7 separate regions of the Homo sapiens genome follow, and regions 1, 2, 3, 5, 6 and 7 are each reported to be linked to region 4. The links are microRNA targets in miRTarBase. Many come from high-throughput screens and were not tested one by one. Region 4 holds a microRNA gene; each other region holds the end of a gene's coding sequence.

Region 1 (4,066 bases), not on the chromosome of region 4:
AGAGAGAAATAAACCTAATCTTATTTAAGCCACTGCTATTCTGGATCTTGTTACAGCAGCTAAATTAAAATTATAATACAATTCCCAAATTGTGTATATTTATTCATAAATCATATACCTATATTATTGACACATTTAGGTTAATGAAACAAAAAAAAAAGGTTATTAAAGAGATTTAAGTTATTTTGTTCCTATGACTTAGTAGATTGTCCATCTCATGAGAAAGAGTACTCAGGTTGAACCCTACTAGTATATTGAGTGACAGCATGAGAGGGTGAGATTTGGAGTTAAAGACTTGAGTCCCTGTGACTTACTTGCTGGGGGACTGTGGACAAGTTACTTCACTTGGCTAAACTTGTTTCTTCAGCTGTAAAATGAGGATACCATCTACCTAAGAGGAGAGCTGTGAAAATAGGTGAGCACATATATGTTATTTAGCATATTTGCCCTCATATAGTCAATGATAGCTATTTTTTTTCAAAATAGCAATCAGTAGTTTCAGTGATAATGACTACAGCCTTTCCCACTGCCCTTTTTTTAAATATTAAAAAATACTTAAAAAATAAACAAGTGTTACATATCCAAATTCTTCAAGTTTGACAACATTATAAGCTTTTAATTGTTTTTCCAATAGGTGAGGGTTTTTCCTGACTCTTGCCAAGTCCTTACATACTCTTGCCTGGCCTATTTTGTCACCAAAGCAGTATGGATAGGCAGGTTAGGATCTACACTGTGGCTATAAACATGGTGAAAGTAGCTAATCCTTGTGGAGGCTTCTTACCACTCATAGAAAATGCCTAAAAGGTGTATTACGCTCACTCAGTATGAATGCAGTATTTTCAGCATACCCATAATTAAATATTTAAAATATTAAAAAGTTTGGATTAAGGTCAACTGAGATTTATGAGTATCATTTATTCCACAGGCGTTTAACAAGTACCTCACATGTGTCTAGAGGCCTTCTGAGAACTTGTAGTTTAGTGTAGGAAAAAGATACGTATAATTGCTGTTTCATAGTGAAGTGCAAGTGCTGGAATAGAGGTATAGTTTTAAGGCATATAGAAACACAATCCTCTCATCCTTATTTCATATATTTCCATCACTGAAACAAAAATTTACCTGAACCCCAGAACCACCATCAAAATGAAGTTTCATGGAAAGGATATAGGATCTAAAAGTAATGGGGACAGGGTATGGTATGCATATTTCTATTCTTCTGTTATTGGATACAAAGCACTTTGTTTGCTAAACCCCTACAATGAGAAAGAACGCAGATCTATTTAATATTTAGTGGCTGTATAACCTGGGAATAAGTATATTTATTTGTTGGGGCTTGAGAAGGTCCAATAAATGGCATACCTCCTTTCCATTCTGGGTTGTGAATATAACTAAGATGAAGAATGAATAAACTAATATAGAGGCCTAAAAAACACCTTTATTTGCTGATAAAACTATTGGAGAAGTTTTTTTTTAGGAGACAGGGTCTCATGTGTTGCCAGGCTGGAGTGCAGTGACTATTTATAGGTATGATCATGGTACACTTTAGCCTTGATGAACTCCTTGGCTCAAGCAATCCTGCTGCCGCAGCCTCCCAAGCAGCTAGGACTATAGATGTGTGCCACTGTGCTCAGCAAGAGAATATGGGTTTCATCTTAAGGCCAGTAAGCTTCTTATCACTGAACTCTAGAACTGGACAGATTTACCCTGTCTCAAGCATTGCTCTACTGGGCCAGGCCTCATCCTGCAGAGGCAGAGCCTGATCCCATAGAAGCAGAACAGAATGAATGTCTCTTCAGATGGGCTGGTCCCAAACAGGAGTGGGGAGGAAGTGGGCTAATTGCACCTTGTTTCTCCTTCCAGATTTACAATTGGGCAAGTCACTTTACCTAGGGCAGAGTGGATAAGGGGATGAAGAGTGACGACAGTGTTATGCTACTGGAGCTTCCTTCACATGGAGGAAAGACGCATTCCCTCTTAATATTTTAGAATATTTTAAATCTTAACAAACCAATAATTTACTTGTTTATGTCTCTCTCCTTAAGATTGTCAATTCAATGAGAATGAAACCATGTTCATCTCTGTGCACACAGGGACTAGCATGCTGTTTGGCATATAGCAGGCAGTCATATTGGTTAACTGAACAAATGCAGTATACTTTGTTACAGTGGACTTTAATATATATGGTAACTTATTAATTGACTCAGTGAAAATTAATCTATAATATACTAAGAACTCTCTTAGGCAATAGAGATAAAAATGAATCAGAATGTAACAGGATAATGTCAAGGTTTTTCTTTTGAAAACAAACCAGCAGTTAGATTTTTGAGGAAAATATAGTTGGAAAGCCTGACTCTCACTCACTGGACCATATGGACCAATCTCTTGACTGCTCTATACTGCAGATTCCCTGTTTATAGCTAAACAAATGACAAGGCTATTTTGAATAATGATTGTCAAACTTTTATAGCTATTACCAAGGCATTATGAACTCAAAATGTTTACTTTCTGGTCTTGTCTTCTTGATCTGGGTAAGACTGAAGAACTAAGATGAAAAGGATATTTTAAAATTTCTTTGAAATTACATATGATTTACTAATAGATATTACTTTGTAAGAAAAAATATATCTAATAACAAAACAAAATACGAATTTAAATTTTCCTATGAGTTTCTTGAGAGTAGGTACTAGATATCAATGTTTGCTGAATTGAAGTCATTAAGAAAAGCTTTGTTTTATGTAATAAATTTAAGATGGGTTAACTTAAACTACATTAAGAAGCAGGGATAAACTGGTTTTTGAGTATCAAATATTTAAAAAATACATGTAATAATCAGAGCTCAATATTTAGCAACTCTACAGATTTCATATTAAGTGTTGTAATTTGCACTAAAGCACACATTTATTTATTTAGGTAATGGAGTCTTGCTCTGTCACCCAGGCTGGAGTGCAGTGGTGCTATCTCGGCTCACTGCAAGATTCTCCTGCCTCAGCCTCCCGAGTAGCTGGAATTACAGGCATGTGCCACCATGCCTGGCTAATTTTTGTATTTTTAGCAGAGACGGGGTTTCACCATGTTGGCCAGGCTGGTCTAGAACTCCTGACCTCAAGTGATCCACCCGCCTCAGCCTCCCAAAGTGCTGAGATTACAGGTGTGAGCCACCGCGCCTGGCCTATCATTTTAAAATTTATTGTTTTAGTTCATTACCAAAAAGAAATCAATCTCCAACTATATGGTAAGTCACTTTGAAAACCCACACAACTTTGTTGTAATAATCTTTCATTTTATAGAAAAATGTAATTATGCAATGGTTATCAGGAAAGTTAATTCAGTAATAAATATGTAGGCTAGGGAATGGTTTACAAATATTCAACCAATACCCACAAAATCCTGTATGATTTACACAACTGTTCAAGCAAACATAAGAAAACTCTGGTTCAATTTCTATTAACTATCAAAAGGACAAAATGCTCTTCTATCTCAAACCAGGTCTGAGTGACAGCTTTTCAATATAATAAAGACACACACCTGCACTCACACACACACAATAAAGACACAGTATCTCTTCTCATTCTAAAACACTTCCTCTTTTAGTCCGTATACACTTCGAATAATCTTGTGTAGTAAATTTTTGCTGCAACTGACAATGTTCAAAGTAAATCTCTCCCGGTTTGGTGTTCTAAGAAGCCAACAGCCACAGCAGGATGAGCATTAATACTACTTCCAGAATCTATAAAATCCCAATGCTATTGCCAGGCAAGTAAACACCGAAGCTGTGAAAAGAAGAAACTGTGTTATAGGTCTTGTATCTGTAATTATTTTGCAGAGATAAAGAGAATAATGTTATCTTTAAGTGAAGAGCAAAAAACAGGAAATCCAACCAATTTTCTATCCTATGTTTTTTATTCCCTAGACAATTAAGTATGAAAGACATTCTTAAGGGCAGCCTTAATGCCTAATTCTTCTTAAAAGCACCTGTATATTAAAATGTAAATTATGTCATTTAGAAACCTATAACCTGTATTTAAAATCATTAACGCTAGCATTATTGACTACTTTAAATAATTAT
Region 2 (4,066 bases), not on the chromosome of region 4:
ATCTCCACGGTGTCTGCCTTTGCCATTGGGAGGCCTGAACTAATCAAACGTTCATTAATAGGATCCCAGCCTAACAGCAACGCTTATGTAGCACCATTCTTAGAAACTACCAAGTATCACACAGGTACATGTGTATGGGGACCTTCCTCTTGACTGCTTGTCAAGAAAAGGATCCAGAGGGAACTTCTGCCCCTACTTCCATGAAGTGAGATGCAACAATCATTTCCAATCTATTTTTTTATCTCATGCTAAAATGAAAGTGGAGGGGAGAGGGAAGAAGGCTCCCATTCTACAATTATAAATGCTGTCCTGGTAGCCTTTCTTCTCTTGCCGGCTAACAATTGTTCTAACAGCATCCCATGGAGGCCAGCAAATGAATGCCCCAGGGACTACAGCCAGAAAATTGTGCCTGTAAAATATCATATTCCTCTGGAGCTTGGTAATATAGAAATTTTACCTCTACAGATGAGGCAAACTAAAATATTGTTGTAACTCAAAAAGGCTTCTGAAGTGCTGAGTTAGAATAAATATATATAGATACATACACACACTACATTGCTTTGGATGCAGGTTCTTACTAATTTATATACACATGTAAAGAGAAGATACTGAAGTGTCTAACTGTAATTTAGCAGCAGAAAAAGAAAACTGCTTAACATATTTGCTTCTTAATCAAGTTGTGTTTAAAGAAATGCATTAATACTCCTATGAATTTGTATCATTGATAGTGTATCTGGATAATCCCAGTAACTACAGACAGAGACCTTGTGGTATGGAGGTTGCTAAATGAGGGGAACACTAATTCCCCCAGAGATAACATCTGAGCTGCTTTAGACTCTGGAAGTGGTTTTCAGTACAATTGACGCTGTAAACTCTGAAAACACGAACATGATTTCCAACCAAATCTTTGTGCTCAGAGCCATATTGCTAAAAAGAAAAAGGCATTGCAGAGGCAAAGTGGACATGGGGTTAATTAAACAAGGCCTCTGAATTCAGGTGTGGCATTTAGATCCTGCAATGAATGGACCTATTTTACAGAAGTCAGCGGCAAATTTTTTGTATTTTTTGGTACAGATGGGGTTTTGCCATGTGGACCAGGCTGGTCTCGAACTCCTGGCCTCAAGTGATGCACCTGCCTTGGCCTCCCGAAGTGCTGGGATTATAGGAGTGAGCCACCACGCCCGGCTACGAGTTGGGTTTTAACAGAAGAGGACCTTGAATGCTGAAGCTTCACAGGGCGGCCAAACTAACTCGCTGATTTTTGCAAGACCACAGTGTAAAGGTCGGATGTCCACCTGAAGAAGGGGTGGGTGCAACTCTCTGGGTGCTGCACACACCATGACCAGCCTGGGCATGCAGCACCCCAGCTCCCATCCATTCACACTGGTTGCCTTTGTGAGGTCCATTTTGAGAGGGCTTTCAGAGGCCTTTTTAATGAGAAAAAAAAATAGCTGTTCTACAAAGAACCTAAGATACATACACTCCTATTTATCAAGATGGCTAGTCCAGAGCAAACATTACATCATAGGCCATGGGGGTTGTCACTTAGCTGCATGCTAAGAATCCTCATATGCTGCTTTGAAAACGCCATAAAAAACTAAGATGCCCTCATACACAGAAAAGAGGAGTTGGGCCAACAGCCTGCGAGAGAAGATCCTTCCCAACTCTGCCATTCTTACTGCAGGAGGGTTTGTAATGCTTCCCCACTTCCTCAGGTCCAGCGACTGCACCTCCACCACTGGAGTGGGGGACACTTCCATTGCTGATGGAAGCTGCCTACTGCTTTTAAAAACACACACATGAGCTGAGAAGTTCTGCTGAAGGTGGGGAGAGTGCTGCTCTTGGCTGCCAGCCGGGTCTAGCGGCCCTAACAAGGGAAACTGGCTGATACAAAATGGATCACTGCCTGAGATATATGAACTGGACTGAGGATAGAAGTTGCATCCGCTGGGCAAAATGTGCCAAAGAACAGAAAGTACTTTCAATTTATTCTTTTAGGCACCAAGAATAAATAAATCCTAAGAAAACTTACGGTAAGCTTGACATAACCAAACTCAGGCTAAAGGAGACACAAGAGGATGAACGCCCTAAGCTTTCAGCCAGGTTTGTCAGTTTTAACACACATCTCACCCAATTCTGCAAGAAGTTTACAAACAATTCAACTTAAAAAACATTCAGAAGTACTATCATTATACCCTTTCCCTCAATGCCATCTTACATTTTAGGGATAAGTTTTAAGCCAAACTATAAGGCTACCTGGAATGCTGAGACAACACACAAATTCTGCTGAGTCCCCGTCACAGACTACTTCTGAAGGTCACCAGTGAGGGCCTAAACAAGAGTCCACTTCTTGTTAGTATAATAACTTTTTATTTGACATCTACAAGATTTTGGCATCTTGCAGCTTTTTACCAGGTTTATACAATCTCGATTTTTCAATAGTGCAACCTGTGGAAGCAAAAAAAAAAAAAAAAAAAAAAAAAAAGAAAAAAAGAAAAGAAAGAAAAAGAAAGAAAAGATAAAAAGACCAACTGTCCCCTCACTTGTTTTTATAAACATCTATTATAGGCGAAACAAAACTTACCCATATTATATAGATAAGTGTCTATTCACATTTGTACATTACCATTTTTAACAGCTTGAGATAAACTCTACGTCTTACAACACATTAAACAATATTCAAGTTACTGAGTAACAACAATAACAACAATAACAAAAGAACACACAGCAGAAGCCTCAAGTGTTTCCTCATTGTCTACAACTCAGGTATGGTTTCCTTTTTATGAGTGACAAAGCAAATTAAGATAATGAAGTAAAAAACGATTGTTTGCAAGATGAAAGCCAATTTGTACTTCCTTCTAAAACTACCTTTAAGTTGCAAATGTAAATTTAAGAGGCTCATAGCCATTTCTGCAGCACACATTAGGAATACTATTAATACATTAAAATTAACTTTTAAGAGTTTTATCACAGAAAAATGTATGTATTCATTACCTTGACCAGAAACCCAGGGCAGGGAGAAGGGGAAGGAGGGGTCTGCAGGGTTTGAAGCAATACCCAGGTATAAACACTATAAAAATGCAATAACCAATGCTGTACATCTAACAAATGTTTCTCTCTGTTACTCGACTCCTGTGTTAATCTTGTTTCAGCATGCTTCCAAAGACATGCACTGTCAGAACAAAAATTAGAAAATAACCTGAATGCATGATATGCAACCTTTCATTTCATGCTTTAATAAACCTATTAAGTTGGAAAAAGAAACCAATATATATTTTCTATATTTATAGACTCAAAACACATGCATCCGGGGATACCTCCCACAGCAATGGCATGGATGTACTGCGTTAACCCTGAGCACTGTATAAACATAAAGTAAAGCCAGTTTGGGAAGTTCCAAGCATTTTAAACCAACTGTGGTCTGTAGCCTTTAACACACTCACAAACAGACTGACACACACGCACACACACATCCCCCTCTGCTCACCCGAAGTAAAAGCAGATGGGAATTATCAGGGGAGAAGCTAAAGGAAAGACATATGTACCACCATCAGCACTGCTGATTTTCAGTTTTGCTATCTATTCCAGGTTTGTCCTTACTCCCAAAAAAACTAACTAGAGAGCACAACTGAAAAAAATATATAATTCTTTGGAAACTGTCCCTGATTTTTATGCAAATGATATGCTTCAACAGCATTTCAGATCCATCCATGTTGAAACCTGTCTGTTCTTCATGCGTTGCTCAAGTTGGTGATGCTCTGAGGGTGATGCTGTTGCCATAGCTGTTTCTGTTGGACCGCAAGCTGTTGAGACTGGTCTGAAGTTGATAGGAGATTTACAAGAGGAGACACACAATTTGCCGGAATGATCAAACCTGTAATTAGTAACAAGAATTTATCAAGTTGTGTCCAGAAGAAACCACACTGTACAGCTTCACAGCAGATTCCAAATGAGGCATAATATTAAGCGTAATGGACAAGAAGTTCACACAAAAATTAAACGACTACCTAATAAATGAAATGGCCATTGAGATGTAGTCTGATTCTTCCACAGCATTTCCCACAAA
Region 3 (4,066 bases), not on the chromosome of region 4:
CTTATTTATATTGTTATAAAATATTCCAAGATGAGCCTCTGGCCCCCTGAGCCTTCTTGTAAATACCTGCCTCCCTCCCCCATCACCGAACTTCCCCTCCTCCCCTATTTAAACCACTCTGTCTCCCCCACAACCCTCCCCTGGCCCTCTGATTTGTTCTGTTCCTGTCTCAAATCCAATAGTTCACAGCTGAGCTGGCTTCTGTGGTGTGTGCTCGTTTGGGGGGTGGGGTGGAAATACTGCCAAGGCTGGGGGGGGCCACCTCTCCATCTGGTCAGTTTGTGGGGTGGGTACTCTGCCAGCAGATGGGAGGATATAGGGAAACAGCACACAAGTCTAAGGGGGGTGCCCAAGGGGGTTATTTTCATCATATATTTATTACATAAATATATAGTAAAATAGACGAGCAACAATTACCATAAAAATATCTTTCTTTAAAATCCTGACCCAAAACACAACGGGGTGAAAAATCGCACATAACAGACATACTGATTGTCAACGTGGGGCAGGAGTAGGAGCCCCTCAAGTCACCCCTGCCGGTCCCACCCCTCCCTGGGGAAGAGACCTACCTCCTTCCCTGTTTCTGGCCACAACCCCCCTCCCCCCAGCCCAGCACCAGCTTCTCATACATTCAGTAGCGCCTCTGGGCAGTGTCCCCCTCCCCCCCGCCCAGGAGTTCCCAGGGCAGGAGTTACTGTCCTCCTTATGGACGGTCTCTCTCTCACAACGCCCTGCCCTCTCCCAGCCCTGCAGACCCGCCACCAGGAGAAGGGGTAGGGGCTCCTCCCCCACCCTCCCCAAGTCTGAGCAGGGAGGAGGCTGGATGAGGTATGTGTGTTATGAGTGATGGGAGGGGCAATACTGAGATGGAGAGGCGGGTGGTGGGGGCGGGGTAGTGGTCATGGCTCTGGCAACCCCTTGTCCTGGCCTGGCCCCCTCGTCCTATTCCCAGCAACCCGTCCTCCCACCGATACTGCACCTGCTGCTCCACCCTGCCTGCCCTAGTGCCCCGGGCCAATACTGGGGGAGGCATGCTGAGCACCCACATCAAGGCCATCCCCCTCATTAGCACCAATGGCCCCCAGGAGAGGGCCCTGTCCCCCACTTCCACAGCAGGGACTGGGACAGCTGCCGCTCTAGAGCAGGTGCGTGGCACTCCTGAGTCGCCCTGGCTCCTCCCCTACCATGTGTACTCACTCACACATTCACGCAGAGGAACGCACACATACACCCCACATCACCGAGGGGGAAGGGAGGGGTCCGGGGAGGATGGGATCACAGCTCATATGATTGGGGAGGGTGGGGGAGTCCCAAGTGCCTATAAGAGGCTAAGGCTCTTCAAGGCCTTTTCTCTGCCGTGTCCATGGCTGAGAATGGGGATGGAGGGGTTGGGGTGGGGATGGAGGGATGGGGAAGACAGCAGACAGGTCAGGAATTCCACTGGGCCCCCAGGCGTGGTAGGAAGGTACAAGAGGGCCTACCCATGGGACTGGAGTAATACAGGATTCAGTACTCCAGGAGAGAGAGAGAGGATAGAGACAAAGACAGCGCGGGCAGCCCGAGGCCCCAGCAGGGTGGGACAGGCACATGCACAGGTGACAGCGGGTGCTCCTCCAGGCCCTCCACCCCTGTTGGAACACCTGAACGATTGGGGAAGGACAGTGCCCTGACGGGCAGCATAGCATTGCCTTCCCATGTCCGTGTGTGCATGTCCGTGTGTGTGTGTGTGTGTGTGTGTGTGTGTGTGTGTGTGTAGGGGGCTGTGGCAGGCTGAGGGTCAGGGTGGGGTGGCAGGTTCCCCACTGCTTAAGACATTTTTGCCCCAATAGTGCAAAGCGCAGGAAGCCCTGGCACCCCTCCCCCCACCCCCTGCCCCAATCCCCATGGCTTCCGGGGGCATCTGTGTCCACCCATCCATCCCTGCCGACATGCAGCCCTGAGCCCAGCACCCTCTGGTCTGCTCTGTCCCACCCCACCTCCTGCTCCCATGGGAGGACCACCTCCTCTCTCCCTCTCTCCCCTGAGGAGTGGGCGGCAGCCACAGGGAGGGGGAGGAGGACAGCTCACCCAAGTGCAGACCAACAGAGCACCCTCACCAGGAGGGCGAGAGGGGCTCAAGCCAAAGTCCCTGAATTAGAGAAAAGAAGAGGGGAAGGGGTCCCGGGGCAGAGGGGCAGCTGGCCAAAAGAGCTTTAAAGAAAAAGGAGCACCGACCACCCCTCCCCTGGGGCCCCAACTAAGTGTCACTTATCTAAACACCCCCATTCTGGTACCTGCCCGCCCAGAGTTAGTGCAGTGAGTAGGAGCTGGGGAGGAGGGCAGAGGTTAGAGAGAGCCCAGAAGACAGATGGGAAACAGGGAAACAGAGTGCTAAAGGGGTGGAGGGTTCTGGGAGACGCTCACGCACAGCCCTCCTACCCCCGACCCAACCAATGCAGCAGCATCCGGTTTCTAGCTAATACTGCAGGATATAAGGAGGGTAGGAGTTGGAGCCACAGTTTTTTCCTGGGTGGGTGCCAAGGTGTGGAAGGAGGAGGTGGATGGGGAGAGGCCCCTAGGGCTGGGCACTTAAAGGGGAGCTGTGTGGGCAGCAGGGCAGGCTGGTGAGGGGCCAGCTGGCATCCAGCATGAGAGGTAGATGGAACTCAGCGGGCACGAGTGGCAGAAAGCAGAGGACATACTAGGGTTGGGGGGTGCCAAAGGGGCACAGAGGGCGGGGTATGGCAAGGGGGGTGGCCAGGACCCTGTTGTGTTAACTCACAGCTCTGATCGGCAGCCCTACCCTTGGGGCTCTGGTGTGGGGGCATTTCTCTCTGATGTGGGGGAAGAAGGGGCAGCTCGCAAAGTGCATGGGGTGGTAAAGGGGGGGTCCTCCCCTCTGGTCAGCCTCAGTTAATAACTTAATATCATCTCTCTCTATCGCTCGCTCTCTCTTTTTTGTATTTTTCTCTCTGTCTAGTTTTTCTTCATTTGTCTTCTCCCCTTGCTTGGTTTCCAAAGTGCAGTTAGAATGACTATAAATTTTAACCTCCAGAGGAGGAGCCAAGCCAAGCCGTTCTTTGCACCCAGGCATCTGGGGAAGTAGAGAGGCCCTCAGCCTGGAGGGGAGACCTAGGCCAAGGAACTGGGTGGGGGCTCTCTCTCATGTGTGTGTAGGGGGTGAGTTGAGGGCATCTTCCCCCAGCCCACATTCCTCCTTCCCCTACGGTCAAGGTGGCTTGTCCCTTCTCAATCCTCCCGCCCTTCCCCTACCTTCTGAGAGGATGGGGTCCTGGGAACTGCAGGACACAGCTCCCCCAGCCTCCCACACTGTCCTTTCCATAGCAAGTTCAGTTGTTTGCCCTGTCCCAGGGCTGGAGGTCTGAGGAGGGACCTGGGCAGTGCGGGTGTGTGTGTGGGAGCTGAATCTATCCAAGGACGAGAGGAAGGAGAGAAGGGGTGTGGGGGGGTCTCCCTCAGCCCCCAGCTCTGCCCCTTCTCTCCAGGCTCCTCCCCACCAGCTCCGCACACCCTCTGGCCGCCTGAGGCTTTAGACTTCCTGATCCTCAAAGACCTCGAGGAAGAGTGGGGGGAAGAGTTCGGTGGGGCACTCGACTTTCATGTGGAGGAAGCGGCTGGCGTGGCAGGCCCCGATCATGCGGAGGTCAGTCACCTTCATCAGCAGCTTGGGCCAGAAGTGCGGAATGTTGTGTTTGCGGTGGTTGACGTAGTGCTCGAACGCCAGCAGGTACGCCTCCTGACTCTTCTCGATCTTGTCCACACACAGCAGGCCCGAGCGGTCTGTGAGGGAAGAGGGGCGTGAGGGGCGAGGGGCTGGCCGAAGGCCTGGAGATGGGGAGGGTGAGGTGTGGGGACGTGGGAAGAAAGGACTAGAGGGGAGATAGAGGCAGAGAGGCTGGGGGAGGGGAGGGGAGAAGCTCCCCCTGAGAGACGTGGACAGGAGAAGCACAGGGAGAGGGAGGCAGCTGGGAAGTGGAGAGGGGCAGGGGGGTACTGGGGGGAGGGGGCAATGCAAGGAGGACAGAGGGACAGGCCGGGGGCTGGGGGAGAGAGAGGAGCCTTGGAG
Region 4 (4,066 bases):
TACCTTTGAAAGGCTATAAAAGCAACGCCATACATTGGGATGAAATTAGACAGCGACAAAATCATTACCTTGACTTCCCACAATAAAGACAACCTTAAAAGGGGGCTATTGATGGTTTCAAATTACATAACGGTGGTTTATATGTTCTTCCTCTGCGCTCACAGAAAGCAATTTTAAAGTGTGAATTCTTCAAAGAACGGGCAAAGCATTCACACACAGACATGCGTTTTTATTTTATGTATTGCAAAGCGCTATGAGAGAGAGAGAGAGAAACCAAAAACAAAAATCCCAGCAAAAGGAGGCCGAGTCCAAAGAGAATATGTCCGGTTTCTATTTCACCAAGCTCCTGGACTCACATTTGGCCCCGGAGCCGAGTGCTCGGTCTCTTTCCCCGGGACGGGACAGGGAGTGGAGTTCCTAGCCCCTTGGGTGGGAAAAGCCCCGCGCACGTCACCGGGTCCCGTCTGCTCACTGCTTCTGCATATTTTAAGCCTGGACACAGCCTCCTTTAGGATAGAAAGGCATTTCCCAAACAACACCGATTCTGGGGGTGTAGTGGGCCTGGCGCTGGGTCCTGGAGAGAAGGTTCAGCCCCCCTTCTCATCCCTGTACTTTGGGGATGGCTCGTACTTGGACAGGGGTGGGCCTCCGCCTTCTCCGCCTTCTATCGGACCTTTCTTCGGATGGATTTCTACGTAAACTCGGAAGGCGATCAAATGCAGGCGGCCAACCTCCAGCGCTTTTTTTTTTCCTCTCAAAGGCGGCGCCTGCATTTTTGGGGGCTCCAGCCCAGGCTGAGAAAGTCCCCTCAAACCTCTACTCTGAGGTTGCTCACACGGCCTGCAAAAACCCGACGGGGCACCCCGCCACCCCACCTTACGTTTCCCTAGGGCCAAGTCAGTGGTCAAAAACCAACCCGGTGGTAGCTGCCTTTACCAAGGAAAGACAGCCAGGACGCCCGCACCGACGGCAACGCGCGGACAGAGAGGACCGTGCCCTCTTTCGCATGTTACGGGGCGAGGGGGCTGTTGGCGTCAGGAGCGCCCTGGGAGGAACTTCGTAGCGGATTCGAGAGACAGAGGGAATTCAGCAAACTTGCTGCCCCGGGCTGCCGGCTGGAGCCCGGCAGATTCGCTGCGCAGCACTGCCCCCTGGTATCCAGCGCCGAAAGTGCCCCCCTCCGCAGCTGCAAGGCTCCTCCCTGGGCTGCGCGGGACAGATTTTTTCTCCTTTCCTGGCTACACGCCTAACAGAGAAGCTATCCCGAGGGACCTCAAGAAGTCCCCCCAAGCCGTACTCAAAAGCCTTTCTCCCTCCTCCTCAAGCGCTCACTTCCCCAAAGAGGACCCGGACCCCTGACTGCCTGAGCCAGGTCCCCAGCATGGTCCGCAACCCTTCTCGACTCCGGCATCCACCTCCAGGCTGACGTCTACCCGGGAGGGGGCTGGGGACCCAAGGAGACTTCGACTACAGGCCCAGGCGAACGGAAGGAAGAGGCTTGCGTTCAGAGAGACACGTTTGGAGCTGGGACTGTTCATTCTTTAAGGAACACCAGCTTCCAGGGCATCTTTCGTTGGCACCTTGGCTTTCCAGAGAAGAAAGGAAGTGGGTATCAGGGCCAGCCCCTCCTCGCACCCCAGGCTGGAGAGGTGCCGAGGTGCTTAGTCACTCAGTCCAAGGGCACCTGAGAGATGGGGGCAAACTTGGCAGGAGCTTGAGCACGGAGGCGTGATCCGCGGGGGGCGCAGGCAGGGCGGGGCCCAGAGCCCCCTTCCGCCAGCCCAGCCTGCCCCTTCCAACCCAACTTGTCTGGCACTGGCTTCTACGGGTGCCGAGAAGACTGCTGTCGTGGGCACAGGGTCCTCGACCCCAGGACGTGCGTGGCCTTTCCCACCCCAACCGGATGGTTTGTCCCAGGCTTTGAGACTGAGCTTGATAGAGAGGTAGGAAGGAAGCGGCGCCAGCTCCGGAGCCAGAGTGGGTTGGAGTCCCAGCTTGGCCACCCTCTAGCTGTGTGACCTTGAGTGAGTTACTTCGCCTCTCTGAGCACCAGTTTCTTTGTTTTTTTTTTTTTCAGGAATGGTGTGAGGATTGAGGTAATGTCCTTAGGATGCCCACATGTGTTCAGTCAAGGTCGGTCGTGATGGTTGCCGGCGTCCGCTGCAGGAAAGGCCCCCAGGAATCAGCTTGTAGGGTGGGCGCCAGCCGGTACTGCACAGGGGCATCGCGGCCTCCGGTTTTAGAAGGGGCAGAAACAGCGCAGTGTCCTCAGCCCTGAGGGCTGAGTGTTGGAGGTCCCGACGCTCCTGGGTTCTCTTCTGCCCGGGTGCAGACTACAGCAGGTGCGCAGGGCTTCGCACACCTCTGCTGTGGGAAGTGAGTCATCTTCGCTTATGATTGCATCTGGCCAGGCCAGCTACGAGAACACTGGGCCTCACAGCTGCCACGTATCCAGCCTTAACCTGTGCCAGGCACTGTGCTAAGAGCTATGCACCCACAATCCCACTTCTTCACAACAGCCTCGACCGAAGTAGATGTTTAAGTTTTTAAATTTCCATTTTACAGAGCAGGAAACAGACTCAGAGAGGTTAACTTCCCCCAAGATCACACAGCTGGTAAGTTGGAGAGCGGGGACTTGAACTGAATCTTCCTTGGAGGCCAAGCTCTGAACCACTAAGTTGGGTGGCATTAGAGAGCCAAGCTCTCGCCCTTCGGTTTCCATTCACGCTACCCTCTCTGAGCCGCAATTCTCTCTCCTGCGTTGGCACTGGCAGAAGTTGAGACACGCTCCCAGGAATCGCGGGCCGTGGCGCGTACTTCCACGCACCCCAGCTAGTTCCAGAGACTCAGCTTGTTCTGAGATCCTCTTGTCGAGCCCCCTTGGTCCCGGCGCCCGGCCTGTGTGGTGCTCAGATCAGACTTATCCACCCGAGCACCACGCAGACCAGCGCCTGGACCAAGGTCCCGGGAAGGAAGCCCTCCTCCCCTTCTCCTGTGGCTTAGCTCAGCGATCAGGGAGGAGCCAGTTAAGAAGTCACAGTCGAAGCCATGACTGCTGTGTCCCGGGGAGGCAGTGGAAGGCGAGGAGCACGGAGCGGGGATACCGCCGGACAACCCCTCCCCGCCGCCCCGTCGGCGTCCTCGCTGCGCAGGGGCTCCCTTGCTGCCCCAATCTAAAAGGAAGCCGTCGCGGCCCAGGGCACGGTAACTAAAAGGCCGTCGGGGAGGGAGACGGGAATGAGTGGGCTTGGACTTGAGGTTTCCGAGCCAGCTGCTCCCTAGAGCCGTTCCTGAGCTCGTCAGCCAGCACGTATTTAATGAATGGCCACTGGGTGCTAGGCCTTGCACGCAACCCTTTCGTCCTCCCCCGGGGCTGAGCCGAGGGTGACCCAACACTAGTCGGAACGAGCCTGGAGACATGGCGCCGGGGCTGCGCTCTGCAGGCCTGGCCTGGTCGCTCTCCACGCACCCCTCTCTCTGTAGCTGCCGCCCCGCCCGGCTCTGCCTGTGGGCGCCCCCTGGCGGCAGGAAGCCGAGCGCGCACCACGCCCTCGGGGCTCCATCCCCACTCACCCCGGCGCCTCTAGCCGCTCCACCCGCACCCCCAGTTCGCGCTGCGGCGGCCAGCCTCTTCCCCGACGGCCGACCGAATGTCCCTCAGAGCTTTCCGTGACCGGCCAGGGCGCGTGGCTGTCCGGAGCCCCTCCACGTTCCCCAGCAGCAGGCCCGGCTCTCTCTGATCAGCGAGCGCGGATGCCGGTCTCCTCCCTCCCTCTGCCGGGCTCCAGCCCGACGCCAGGCCGCTGGGGGCAAGCGCTGTGCTTTGGAAGAGGAGAAAAGCCCCAAATAAACAAAAACCCAAAGCCCATTCAAGTTCAGGGGTGGAGAACTGTTGGCATCTGAATTTTAAAAAGATCGCCGGGACTCCCAACCACCACCAAACACCCTCTTGTCCACCCCCCCCCGCCCCCGACACCATCCCACCCCACACACCCCACGCCCGCGTCCCGTGAACCGAACCGCCAATGCGCCGCAACCTTCTCGGCAGTCACACCTGTGTCCCCGA
Region 5 (4,058 bases), not on the chromosome of region 4:
GACTGGAAGGTGCCTGAGCCTGAGGGCCAAACAAGTCCCAAGAGTAAGACCTGGGATGGGACAAGGGAAACTGGACTGGGTGGATTTTGTATTTTGTTTGTTTGTGACAGGGTCTCACTCTGTCACCCAGGCTGAAGTGCAGTAGCGTGATTACAGCTCACTGCAGCCTCGACTTCCTGGGCTCAAGTGATTCTCCCACCTCAGCCTCCCAAGTACCTGGGACAACAGGCACACACCACCACACCCAGCTAATTTTTGTACTTTTTGTAGAAACAGGATTTTGCCATGTTGCCCAGGCTGGTCTTAAACTCCTGGGCTCAAGCGATCCACCCACCTTGGGCTCACAAAGTGCTGGGATTACAGGCATGAGCCTGAGCGCCCCCAATTGGGTGGATTTTGATTGCACATATGGAGAATAGCACTTAACAGTTTACAAAGCACTTCATCCTCCTAACATTCAGTAAAATACATTTTATCGAAACTCTCCATTAACTATAACTTCCTCTTGCCCAAGTCTAAAATGTTCAGGGAAGGTCCATGCCCTTTTTTCTCTTGCATTTTTCCTTCATAGGAAGTATGAGAAGATGCTTTTTCTCCACTCAGCTTGAATCATGCTTTTGGTTTTGTCTCTGACAGATGCAGCTGTCTTCTCCTCAGTGCTGGCGCTCTGACTACCCTTCCCAAAGAACCACGGCCCTCTCCCTTTACTGTTCTATAGCCCCAGAACTGGGAGATGGCTTCCTAAGTTGGCTATACCTTGTCCACTTCCAGTACTGGACGTGCTCAGGGTCTAGGGTCACAGATGGTGCTATTAATTGAACTGGAACACAGCAGAATTGTTGCAAAGGTTCTAGGAGCCAGATTCATTCCTTCTTCATTCTTTGCAAAACAGTGGTACAGACATGGAGTCTAGAATTGACCCAGATGGAAAGTAATTGGTATTCTTAATATCCTGGGTGACTAATATCCAGGCAGAGAAGCTCCTGGAACCATAACTGTAAGTTCCTAGCTGGCTAGGGATTGAAGTCCTGGACAGTGACAGAGGATACCACAGTAGTTCAAGACTTAGCACAAGTCACCAACTGCTTCAGGGATACCTGGAGGGGCCAGCAAGTAGAGTGTTGGTGGCCCAAGCAAACCAGTGTTGCCAATACCATTGCCAAAAGGGCCTTTGGATCCTGGACAAAGCTTGGCTGCCGGCTTCATTTATTCCTGCTGATGGCTGAGAAGCATCTGTCTTCCATCCCACTTGCCTGTCCCAAGTTTTGTTCCATTTTTTAAAAATTTGTTGTAAACTGCATGTTTTATAAAATAAAAATAAAATATCGTTTGTTATTTATCTCATTAGAGAACTGCTAGTGTGGGTTCTCTGGCTTCAGTCTTCCTCTCCTTCCTTTGAAGGTAAAGGTCCGGAATCCAAAGTTATGGATATGAAAGGGTATAATTAGGCCGGGCGCGGTGGCTCACTTCTGTAATCCTAGCACTTTGGGAGGCAGAGGTGGGTGGAACACGAGGTCAGGAGTTAAAGACCAGCCTGACCAAGATGGTGAAACCCCGTCTCTACTAAAAATACAAAAATTAGCTGGGAGTGGTGGATGGCGACTGTAACCCTAGCTGAGGCAGAAAATTGCTTCAACCCGGGAGGCGGAGGTTGCAGTGAGCCGAGATCACGCCACTGTATGCCAGCCTGGGCGATAGGGCGAGACTCCGTCTCAAAAAAAGGGGAAAAAGGTATAATTTATGCCTTTTCTGGGCAATGCTGGGTCTTTGCTATAGCTGCCCAGTACCCTAAGTCAGACTGAAGATGTACAGTATGGTTTCCGTTAATTGTGTAAGCCGACAAACTACAGGTCCCAGGATAGCTTGAGACTTGTAGTTGCTCACAAAGATGGGTCCGGTGCTGCGGTGCTTCCTGGGAGATGTAGTTTCCTGTGTATTGAAACCTGGACTGCTCGCTGGCCGGCAGCGCACCGTTTTGAAGGTCCTAGCCCACCTGGGCTGGCTCACGCGCACGACTAGCCGCTCCCATACAGCACGCCCGGACTCTGTCGTCGCTTAAGGCCACTCCTATTCTACGGCTGACCCCTGGTGGTCACGTGGATCTGTTCGCCACGCAAGTCTGGGTCCTTCGGCGATTGACCGGGGTCCTTGCTGTTCGGGAGCCTCTCCTAAGCTGCCTGTTCGCGCGAGAGTTTGGAGGGGCGGGTTTGGGGTCGGTGTCTGATTGGGGCTCGCACCGCAGCACGCTGGAGTCCCGCTTAGGTACCAGTTAGCGTCAGGGGAGCTGGGTCAGGCGGTCGCCGGGACACCCCGTGTGTGGCAGGCGGCGAAGCGCTCTGGAGAATCCCGGACAGCCCTGCTCCCTGCAGCCAGGTGTAGTTTCGGGAGCCACTGGGGCCAAAGTGAGAGTCCAGCGGTCTTCCAGCGCTTGGGCCACGGCGGCGGCCCTGGGAGCAGAGGTGGGACGGATGCGGGCGGCGAGGCGCTGGGCGCTGAGGGTTGGGGATGGACTGAAGCGAAAGCAATGGCGGAGTCCTTAGAAAGGGGGCTGGTGTCCGTACGGGTAATCACTTACGGGCTGGAGGTGGGGACGCAGGAATCTTCGGTGCAGGATCCAAATGGGCCCTAGTTATTGCTCTCCTCGCTGGCCTCCTGGCCTGACTGAGGGCTCCCTGCCGGCAGTTCCCTAGTGCCTGTAGTCCTCACGTAATCGCCAACTTACCTCCTGTAGCTGCCACAAAGCCCCGTGAACCCTAGGCATGCAGTGCTAAAGTACCAACACTTAGGGCCTCACCTATCCACGTAGAGTCTGGGGCTGAGCCGCAAGTCCTGAGCTCGCGCTCCCACCCACCACCCTGGGGGAATCAGAGCCCTCAAGCGCTGGAACAGAGAAGCCCCTTTGTGTCCCGGCCATTTCCTGGAAAGTAGAGCCAGAGTCACAATGAGGCCTTTGAAAGCCTTGGGGTGAGGATTGGGGGGGTCAGGGAAAAATGGAGTCGGCTCCTCACACTTATGTTTTATTCCCACTCAAACCCAGGTGGAGCGACCCCATTACGCTAAAGATGAAAGGCTGGGGTTGGCTGGCCCTGCTTCTGGGGGCCCTGCTGGGAACCGCCTGGGCTCGGAGGAGCCAGGATCTCCACTGTGGAGGTAAAGGCACAACGGGAAAAAGAAGTGGAGGAAGCAGAGCCTTGGGAGGGCATGAGATCCAAGGCCTGGGAGAAGGATGAATGGAAATCCTGGGTTGATCCCATTCTCCTCACACCCTACCCCCTACCCTGTCCCCTGCTCTCATTCTCTCCTCTTCCACCAGCATGCAGGGCTCTGGTGGATGAACTAGAATGGGAAATTGCCCAGGTGGACCCCAAGAAGACCATTCAGATGGGATCTTTCCGGATCAATCCAGATGGCAGCCAGTCAGTGGTGGAGGTAACTGTTACTGTTCCCCCAAACAAAGTAGCTCACTCTGGCTTTGGATGAAATTCGACTGCTTAAAAAGGACCTTGGTTTAATAGAAATGAAGAAAACAGACTCAGAAAAAAGATTTGGCTCTGTCTCATTTGGAAGAAGCTGCAGGCTTATTCCCCATGCACTTGCTTCCTGGCTGCAAACCTTAATACTTTGTTTCTGCTGTAGAATTTGTTAGCAAACAGGGAGTCCTGATCAGCACCCTTCTCCACATCCACATGACTGGTTTTTAATGTAGCACTGTGGTATACATGCAAACATCCGTTCAAAATCTGAGTCGGAGCTAAAAATAAAAAATGAAAAAACAGAAATAAGAATAAAAGGTCTTATCCTCATAATTAGGAAATTTTAATCGAAAACAACACACATGTACACAAAGGTGTATCTAATAAGCAATATATAAGGCAGTGTTAAGATTACAGTGCTAGCCTGGGCATCATGGCAAAACACCAACTCTACAAAAAAATGCAAAAGTTAGCAGTGCATGGTGGCATGTGCCTGTAGTGACAGCTGCTTGGAAGGCTGAGGTGGGAGGATCACTTGAGCCCAGGAGGTCGAGGCTGCAGTAAGCCGTGATTGTGCCACTGCAC
Region 6 (4,066 bases), not on the chromosome of region 4:
CAGTTGTAGTCCCAGCTACTTGGGAGGCTGAGGTGGAAGGATCCATTGAGCCCAGGAGGTTCAGAGTGCAGTGGGCTATGATTGTGCCACTGCACTCCAGCCTGGGTGAGAGCAAGACCATCTAAAAAACAAGAACAACAACAACAACAAAAAAAGGCATGCAGAGCTAATTTTTTTTTAATATCCACACATCTAAAAGTTGAATAATTAAAGAAAAATTAATCAGCACTGATTGACTCTGGAAGAGTATTAAATTAGCTTTCTCTTTGAAGTAGACCTCAGGCTTAACTTACCTCAAGCTCTTTTGATTCTGAGAGCCTATATGCCTATACTGTATAAGTTAAACAGTGCATCAGTCCTTTCTATCACTTTAAATTCAGACTAGGACTAAAAAATTTTAGTTAGAAATTACAAGTTTATTTTTATATTTTGAAAAAGGCATAATAGAAAACAAAAATAAACAACCAGGCATATCAATATTTGTGACATACACATACACACAAAAATGAATATAGGAAATAACACGAAGAAAAAGCATAGTATGTTTTGAAACCAACGTGGGGTATGAACAGATTTTTGATGAAATACAACTAAAGGTTTTAAGTGTCTATGTAATGTTCGAGATATTACGATCACTCTTATCCTACTAGCAAAAATTAGCAAACTAGGCTTTAAAACATGATTCCTGTTGTTTTAGCAGGATTTATTTTGGTAATGATCCTGCTTCCTTATAAACAACTACTTATCATTGTTGAAGTCTTCTTGTGTTAAGGAGTACAATGAGGCCAGGCGCAGTGGCTAACACCTGTACTCCCAGCACTTTCGGAGGCTGAGGCGGGAGGGTCGTTTGAACCCAGGAGTTCAAGACCAGCCTCAACAACATGGCAAAACTCTGTCTCTACAGAAAATACAAAAATTAGCCAGGCGTGGTGGCGCGTGCCTATAGTCCCAGCTACTTGGGAGGCTGAGGTGGGAGGATCACTTGAGCCTGAGAGGTCAAGGCTGCAGTGAGGTCAAGATTGGGCCACACCACACTCTCAGCAACCTGGGTGACAGAGTGAGATCCTGTCTTTAAAAAAAAAAAAAAAAAAAGGAAAGAAAAGAACAAAACAAAAAACAAAACTGATGTACATGTTTTAAAGCAAAATAGAACCCCAAGTCTAAAAGTAAAATAAGCCAAGGTTAGTTACAATACTGATTAAAAAGAGTATATCCTGAGGCAGTTGTTAGTATATCACTCTCTATTATATGCACAATAACCTCTGATAGGTAAAATATCTGAGCATTTTGCAAGGTAAACCTCCAAAGTTATACCACAGTGTGCCTTTTTCTTTGCTGTTTCTTCTTTGCCTATTCCTACAGCTACCAGTAAACACTTAGGAACTGCTTTGTATGCCAGGGTCTCCAAGACTACCTCCAGGTTCCATGATTTGCTAGGAGAATTCACAAGACTCAGCATATCATCACACAGCTATGATTTATTACAGCAAAAGCATATGAAGCAAAACAGCAAAGAGAAAAGGTACAGAGGCAAAGTCTGGGGGAAACCAGGTATAAGCTTCCAGAGTCCTCTAACAGTGGAGTCACACATATCTGTTGTTTCATTCCACCAGCAACTGAATTGTGACAACATGTGAGAAATGTTGTTTACCAGGGAAACTTGTTAGAGATACAGTGCCCAGGGTTTTTACTGGGGGCTGGTCACGTAGGTACCTTCTACCTACCATGTACCAAAATTCTAGACTCCCAGGAAGAAAGCAGGTTTTCAGCACAAACCACAGGTTAGCTACCATGAACGACTCTTTTCAGTGAGTGGAGCCCTCCTGTTAAGGTTTAAATATGTCCCCCAAAGTTCAAGTGTTGGAAATTTAATTGACATTGTAAAAGTGTTATGAGACCTTTAAAAAGTAATTAGGTAAGGAGGGCTTTGCCCTCATTAATGAATTAGTGCTGCTATCTTGGGAGTGGGCTCATGATAAAAGGCTAAGTTTAGACCCATATATCTTTCTCATGCTCACTTGCCATGTGGTGCCTTCTGCCATGGCAAGACCCTCACTAGATGCTGGCACCATGTTCTTGGACTGCCTAGCCTCCACACCTGTCAACCAAATAAACTTCTGTTCATTATAAAATACTTAGTTTGTGTAATTCTGTTATGACAGCAGAACAGACTAAGATACCTTCTGATATCTAAGTTCCCAGATGCAACAGCTGAGGACAAACCTTATAATCAGGCCTTTCAAAGGATAAGTCAGGCTGGCTGTGTTACTCTTTTCTGCATACTTAGTGACATTCCCACAGGAATAATCATCATAGACATTTTCAGATTCAAGAAGACCCTTCTAATTCAGAAACACCTTTTTTTTTTTTTTTTAAGACAGAGTCTTGCTCTGTTGCCCAGGCTAGAGTGCGGTGGCACGATCTGGGCTCACTGCAACCTCTGCCTCCTGGGTTCAAGTGATTCTCCTGCCTCAGCCTCCTGAGTAGCTGGGATTACAGGCACATGCTACCATGCCTGGCTAATTTTTGTATTTTTTATTTTTTTGGAGATGGAGTCTTGCTCCATCACCCAGGTTGGAGTGCAGAGGCACGATCTTGGCTTACTGCAACCTCTGCCTCCTGGGTTCAAGCGATTATTCTGCCTCAGCCTCCCAAGTAGCTGGGATTACAGGCGTCCACCACCATGCCCGGTTAATTTTTTATATTTCTACCAGAGATGGGGTTTCACCATGTTGTCAAGGCTGGTCTCAAACTCCTGACCTCAGGTGATCCACCCATCTGGGTCGGCCTCCCAAAGTGTTGGGATTACAGGTGTGAGCCACTGCGCCCGGCCTAATTTTTGTATTTTTAGTAGAGACAGGTGTTTCGCCATGTTGGCCAGGCTGGTCTCGAACTCCTGACCTCATGATCTGCCCACCTAGGCCTCCCAAAGTGCTGGGATTACAGGCGTGAGCCACCGTGCCTGGCCAGAAACACACTTCTTTTTTTTGAGACAGGGTCTTACTGTGTCGCCCAGGCTGTAGCGCAGTGGCGTGATCATGACTCATTGCAACCATGACCTCACAGGCTTAGGTGATCCTCTTACCTCAGCCTCCCGAATAGCTGGGACTACAGGCATGCACCACCATGGTCGGCTAATTTTTTGTTTATTTTGTAGATATGGGATTTCACCATGTTACCCAGGCTGGTCTTGAACTCCTGGGTTTAAGTGATCTGCCCGCCTCAGCCTCCCCAAGTGTTAGGATTACAGGTGTGAGCCACCACACCAGACGATAAACACACATTTTTAAAAAAAGAGAATTTCCCACCTGAGAAATGGTTAATTCACTTATATTAATAAATTGTCATGGCTATTTTTTAGCTTCTCTAGTTTTACTGAAAGGTAGAATAAAAATATATGAAAAACAAAGGAAAAGTCAGTTTGGTCTTAATGAACCTGAGATCTTGATACTCCAATATAAAGCAGGTTCTTTCAGTATTACCAGCAGCAAAGACTATTAATACCCATGTTACAGTCAACTAGAAATAGACTTCATATGACTACACATAATTAAGCAAAAATAAAGTTGATGACTACTTGGCATTAATAGTTTGGACATGAACTTTAGAAGTAAAAGGTAAAGGAGGCATTATAATATCATGTTTATAAAGATAACTTTCTTCAGCTAATATTTTGGGGATACAAGACGAAACTTCGTTTTGTTGTTTACGCCACTTGAGTATATTCTCTGCCAGTTCTTCTGTCTCAGTCACCAATATATCCATCTTTGCTAAAGCCTGGTTCTGTAACATTTGAAAAGGGAAACAGGAGAAATTATGTCTCTTATTAATTCATTATATCATCAGTAACTGATACCAAAGGTTAACACATGATCTTTTTCCAGCCCCTTACTTCAAAAGCTCCTTAAAACTGTGCTTTCCCACTTCTTACAGTACAAACCTACTCTTTGTGAGTTCAACTCTTTTGTCTTCAATAATCACTCAATGCAGATGACCCTCAATTTATATTGCTAAACCTAACTTCCTTCCTAAAATTCAGGCCCACATTTAAGACTACTGGTAATCT
Region 7 (4,066 bases), not on the chromosome of region 4:
ATTAGGTTAGCTTGTGGCCCACTCTGTGGCTTAAGAGCTGCTGTTAGTGTCCCATGACACTGGGATCCCAGACATAAAGAGTGTAACAATGGAACTAGGATTTTTTGCATGATATCCATTTTTTACCAGGTGAAAGAGCCTATAGGTGCTTGGTGCTGGTATTACACACCATTCTCGGGGAGATGAAGAAAATGCTTTCCTAAGATAAACTGTAGCATGGTAATAAATAGTCCTCCTTAAAATGACTAACAGCTCTTATGCTAAAGAAGTTTTGGCAGTCTCTAACTCAATATATCAATTTTTCAGAGCAAAAAGGTGTAATCTCTCTGCAACTAGACTGGGTTGCTAGTTTGCTGACACCAGAATTAGAATTTGAAAAACAGTAATTTCTGGTACTAAATATTACTTCAGAGTCACCTTCCAAATAATTACCCTCCAAATAATCTAAAATTCTTTCTTCCTTGTGCCGCCTGCAATATATACAGCACTATCTTCTCAATACTGAATTTCCTCATCTCACTCAGCCTTTTTACTATCAAATACAGTGGGCCTCTATAACAAACAGTTGATGAGTCATTCAATGTCTGCTGAAGAGAAATACAGAACAAATAAGTTTGTTCTTTTCCAGGCCAAAGCTTACTTGAGGATTGCTGTGGAAGTGGTAAGAAGATTGCCATCACCTTCAGAATGATTCCCCAAGTGTCCTGGAAATTTGCCTGGTACTGACATTAAGAGGACCTTTGGAAATCAGCAATGTGGTGATGGAACCTACAGAAATAATAGAAATCATAACTGTTTTATTTCTAAGGAAAGAATGTCTTCATATTTGACTTGCTAAGCTAAGGTTCACAAAACTTTGATGTATCAATGTTAACTGCTATATTTAGGAATTTTTTGAAAGCTGGTGTGTACCACCTGCAAAGAACTGCATTTTATTTTATTGAATTACCCCTTTAGAAATCACGAGTTTATGATGTTACAAGTCCATTTTGGGAGAGAACTGTACACTTTTTGCAGGACCACAGAATTAGTAATTTAAATGATATACTAAATTTGTGTATGGGCATAAGTATTACGCCTTCCCACCAGGCAATTTGGACTGTCTTTGAATCCTGTCTTTGGTACTGTCTTGGACATGTTCTTAATATGAACCTCTGCTTCTTCATCTGGATCACACTATACCCCAGACTTAATGAATTTCAGTCTCCAGGAGTGGAGCCTGAACATATGTATTTTTAGTAAGACCATGATGATGTTGATGATGATTCTGGTAATCATGGCAGTAAGAATAATAGCTAACATTTAACAAGTTAATTATAATTGTTCTTCCATTTGTGTGAGTGGGTACTATTATCTCCATTTTACAGATAAGTAATTTGAGATATAATTTGAAGGCACTCAACCTTGAGTGTCTTGCTGAGGGTTACTGTATCTAGCAGGTGATGGAGCTTGGATTTGAACTTGAGTAATTCGATATTAGATTCATCTTTTTGTACACCAATGTGCTTTTGTTAATTAAAAAAAGTCGGTGGTGGCTAGGCGTGGTGGCTCACGCCTGTAATCCCAGCACTTTGGGAGGTTGAGGTGGGTGGATCATGAGGTCAGGAGTTCAAGACCAGCCTGACCAACATGGTGAAACCCCGTCTCTACTAAAAATACAAAAATTAGCTGGGTGTGGTGGCATATGCCTGTAATCCCAGCTACTCGGGAGGCTGAGGCAGGAGAATCATTTCAACCCGGGAGGCTGAGGTTGCAGTGAGTGGAGATTGTACCACTGCACTCCAGCCTGGTCAATGGAGTGCGACTCCATCTCAAAAAAAAAAAAAAAAAAAAAAAAAGTCGGGGGAGATGCAATATTTAGCATTTCCTCAAACTTTTTTTGGCCATGAAATCCACCACCCCCCTCCTTTTTCAGAGCATTTCATGAAGTTCACATTTCAAATAATACATTTTGAAAAACATTTATCTTGTCTAATTGAAGCTCAAAGAGATAGAGTCAATGACTTTTCAAAGTCAGGTAGCAGATAGTTTTAAAGCTGCAAGTACTGATAAGTGTGAGCCATTAGTTAATTCGCATTTATAAAGAAGTGGTCTGTCACTTTTGGCAAATGTCTTGACATCTGTTGCTCTACAGTTGTCAACTAGAAAATTAGGCATAGAGTTTCACATTATTATAAGCATGTTTTCACACAAAAACATGTACATTGATGTTTATTGCAATTTTATGTGTAATAACCAAAAACAACCCAGATTTTCTTCATTGGGTAAATGATTAAACAAACCATAGTACATTCATACCGTGAGTGCTACTCAGCAATAAAAAAGAACAAACTATGGGTACAGGCAGCAACTTATAATTCCAGAGAATTATGCTGAATGAAAAAGGCCAATTTAAAAAGGTTTTGTACCAAAAGATTCCATTTATATAACGTTCTTGAAGTGACATAATTATAGAAATGGAGAACAGATTAGTGGTGGCTGTGTTAAGGAGGGGGTGAGGATGGGAGAGAATTGGGCGTGGCTGTGAGAAACATGAGGGATCCTTGTGATGATGGAAATGTTCTATATCACAGCTATCGATGTCAGTATCCCAGTTGTGATATTGTGCTATAGTTTTGCAAGATGTTACCACTGGGGGAAATTGGGTGAAGGGCACATGGAATCTCTGTATTATTTCAACTGCATGTAAATCTACAATTATCTCAAAATAAAAATAAAAGTTAAAAAAACACAAACTGCTATATCTGAACTGAAATTTACTGGACCAAATTATACTAATTAATATCATGAATAAAATTATTTGTGGACACACTGTAATCATATCACTCTGAGAAGGAAGTAATGACTTAAAGTTTCAGATATTCTTTGTGTATTTATTGTCTGTTGAGGAAGAAGAAAATATAGATGATCATTGAGCACTTGTGAATACAAAAAATACTTAAACCAAACTTAACTTTTTTCAAAAAAGAATGACTTAAAGTTGTATGTCACCATTTAATACATATCATAGGGAAATGGGAAAGGTGGTCTTTACTCATAAATACATGACCGAGAGAAGATCCACATATAAAATTCCCTGCCCTCTTCTCCTCCTTCTTTTGACTGTTGTCTGCAGATGCTTCAAGGAAGTCTACTGAAACAAATGGCGGTTGGAATATATATGCAGGTTTAGACATGGAGGAAGGAACAGTAGCTATAAAACAAGAACTAAGCTTATTCTAAAATTTTGCCACCAACTCCAAAGGTAGACTGAAGTACAGGTAGTTTGCCTGTTTGTTAAGGAGTGATATTTATTTTCCATTCTTCACATCTCAGTAGAGTGTAAATAAAAGACTGATATTTTGAAAAGGTGAACAAAATTGGCAAACCTTTAGCCAGGCTCATTAAGAAATGAGAGAAAGAAAGATGACATAAATCAACAAATCAGGAATGAAAAGGAGACATTATTACAGACATGAAAAGGACAATAAGAAAGATTACAAACAACTTTATGCCCATTAAATTGAAGACTTAGATGAAATAGACAAATGCTTTGAAAGAAACTACCAAAGCTCACTTATGGAATAGATATATTCCTTTAATATAATTTATGACTGAGTAGTCATAAATTACTTTTAAAAATATAATTTGTGTTAAGAACCAACAAAGAAAACTCTAGCCCCAGATGCCTTTACTGTCAAAATCTACCCAACATTGAATGAAGGAATAATACCAGTTCTACACAAACTTTACCAGAAAATAGAGGGGGCACTTTCCAACTCATTTTGTGAAGCCAGCATTACCCTAATATGCAAACCAAAGACAAAGACAATACAAGAAAAGAAGAATACAGACAAATGTTCCTCATAAACATAGACAGAAAATTCTTCAACAAATCTTACTTAATTGAATCCAGCATTATATAAAAGGATAATACATATGACTACAAGGTCATTTTCCTGGGAACACAAGGTTGGTTCAACATTTGAACATCAATCAATGTATGGCAGATTCAAGAAGAAACAGTAAAGCAAAACAGACTAAAGAAAAAAAGCATGTTTATTTGAATAGGTATAGACCAAGCATA

Evidence for each region. The annotated mature microRNA hsa-miR-3663-5p reads GCUGGUCUGCGUGGUGCUCGG and lies in region 4 at 2,929-2,949, opposite strand. An mRNA with a match to its seed (bases 2 to 7 or 8) in the 3' UTR can be bound and repressed. Matches are read on the target gene's strand: a 7mer-m8 pairs with bases 2 to 8, a 7mer-A1 pairs with bases 2 to 7 and ends in A, and an 8mer does both.
Region 1: miRTarBase lists CCDC90B as a target of hsa-miR-3663-5p. Seed matches in the 3' UTR shown: 7mer-m8 at 3,083-3,089 and 8mer at 2,505-2,512.
Region 2: miRTarBase lists SBNO1 as a target of hsa-miR-3663-5p. Seed matches in the 3' UTR shown: 7mer-m8 at 1,100-1,106.
Region 3: miRTarBase lists THRA as a target of hsa-miR-3663-5p. Seed matches in the 3' UTR shown: 7mer-A1 at 2,878-2,884, 8mer at 1,952-1,959 and 7mer-A1 at 270-276.
Region 5: the mRNA of PAN2 is a reported target of hsa-miR-3663-5p. The part of its 3' UTR that is shown has no 7-base or 8-base seed match.
Region 6: the mRNA of HAUS2 is a reported target of hsa-miR-3663-5p. Seed matches in the 3' UTR shown: 7mer-m8 at 3,185-3,191, 7mer-m8 at 2,883-2,889 and 7mer-m8 at 2,742-2,748.
Region 7: the mRNA of NUBPL is a reported target of hsa-miR-3663-5p. Seed matches in the 3' UTR shown: 7mer-m8 at 1,613-1,619.

What each region holds. Positions count from the first base shown.
Region 1 is chr11:83,258,197-83,262,262 of GRCh38, forward strand. CCDC90B (coiled-coil domain containing 90B) reads right to left here. Exons shown (of 9, transcript NM_021825.5): 9 at 885-3,770. The coding sequence ends at 3,715. It also overlaps a transcript of ANKRD42 not described here. Among named protein-coding and RNA genes, the nearest start is that of CCDC90B-AS1, 26 kb to the right of the region's middle. RefSeq lists a silencer at 1-5.
Region 2 is chr12:123,292,177-123,296,242 of GRCh38, forward strand. It overlaps SBNO1 (strawberry notch homolog 1), which reads right to left. Exons shown (of 32, transcript NM_001167856.3): 32 at 1-3,874. The coding sequence ends at 3,732. Among named protein-coding and RNA genes, the nearest start is that of CDK2AP1, 22 kb to the left of the region's middle.
Region 3 is chr17:40,088,920-40,092,985 of GRCh38, reverse strand. It overlaps THRA (thyroid hormone receptor alpha), which reads right to left. Exons shown (of 9, transcript NM_199334.5): 9 at 1-3,780. The coding sequence ends at 3,530. NR1D1 (nuclear receptor subfamily 1 group D member 1) reads left to right here. Exons shown (of 8, transcript NM_021724.5): 8 at 1-193. Among named protein-coding and RNA genes, the nearest start is that of NR1D1, 9.6 kb to the left of the region's middle. RefSeq lists enhancers at 1,144-1,770, 1,771-2,396.
Region 4 is chr10:117,164,806-117,168,871 of GRCh38, forward strand. It overlaps MIR3663 (microRNA 3663), which reads right to left and starts at 2,969; the gene lies at 2,873-2,969. MIR3663HG (MIR3663 host gene) reads right to left here. Exons shown (of 3, transcript NR_121651.1): 1 at 4,055-4,066. RefSeq lists an enhancer at 788-1,342.
Region 5 is chr12:56,314,222-56,318,279 of GRCh38, reverse strand. It overlaps PAN2 (poly(A) specific ribonuclease subunit PAN2), which reads left to right. Exons shown (of 26, transcript NM_014871.6): 25 at 1-43; 26 at 637-1,344. The coding sequence ends at 671. It overlaps CNPY2 (canopy FGF signaling regulator 2), which reads left to right and starts at 2,292. Exons shown (of 6, transcript NM_014255.7): 1 at 2,292-2,459; 2 at 3,038-3,150; 3 at 3,314-3,429. The coding sequence starts at 3,063. It overlaps CNPY2-AS1 (CNPY2 antisense RNA 1), which reads right to left. Exons shown (of 2, transcript XR_002957416.2): 2 at 3,472-3,751. RefSeq lists enhancers at 1,939-2,088, 2,169-2,218, 1,719-2,307.
Region 6 is chr15:42,566,324-42,570,389 of GRCh38, reverse strand. It overlaps HAUS2 (HAUS augmin like complex subunit 2), which reads right to left. Exons shown (of 6, transcript NM_018097.3): 6 at 396-3,783. The coding sequence ends at 3,574. Among named protein-coding and RNA genes, the nearest start is that of STARD9, 7.2 kb to the left of the region's middle.
Region 7 is chr14:31,858,490-31,862,555 of GRCh38, forward strand. It overlaps NUBPL (NUBP iron-sulfur cluster assembly factor, mitochondrial), which reads left to right. Exons shown (of 11, transcript NM_025152.3): 11 at 629-2,735. The coding sequence ends at 691. Among named protein-coding and RNA genes, the nearest start is that of LINC02313, 84 kb to the right of the region's middle.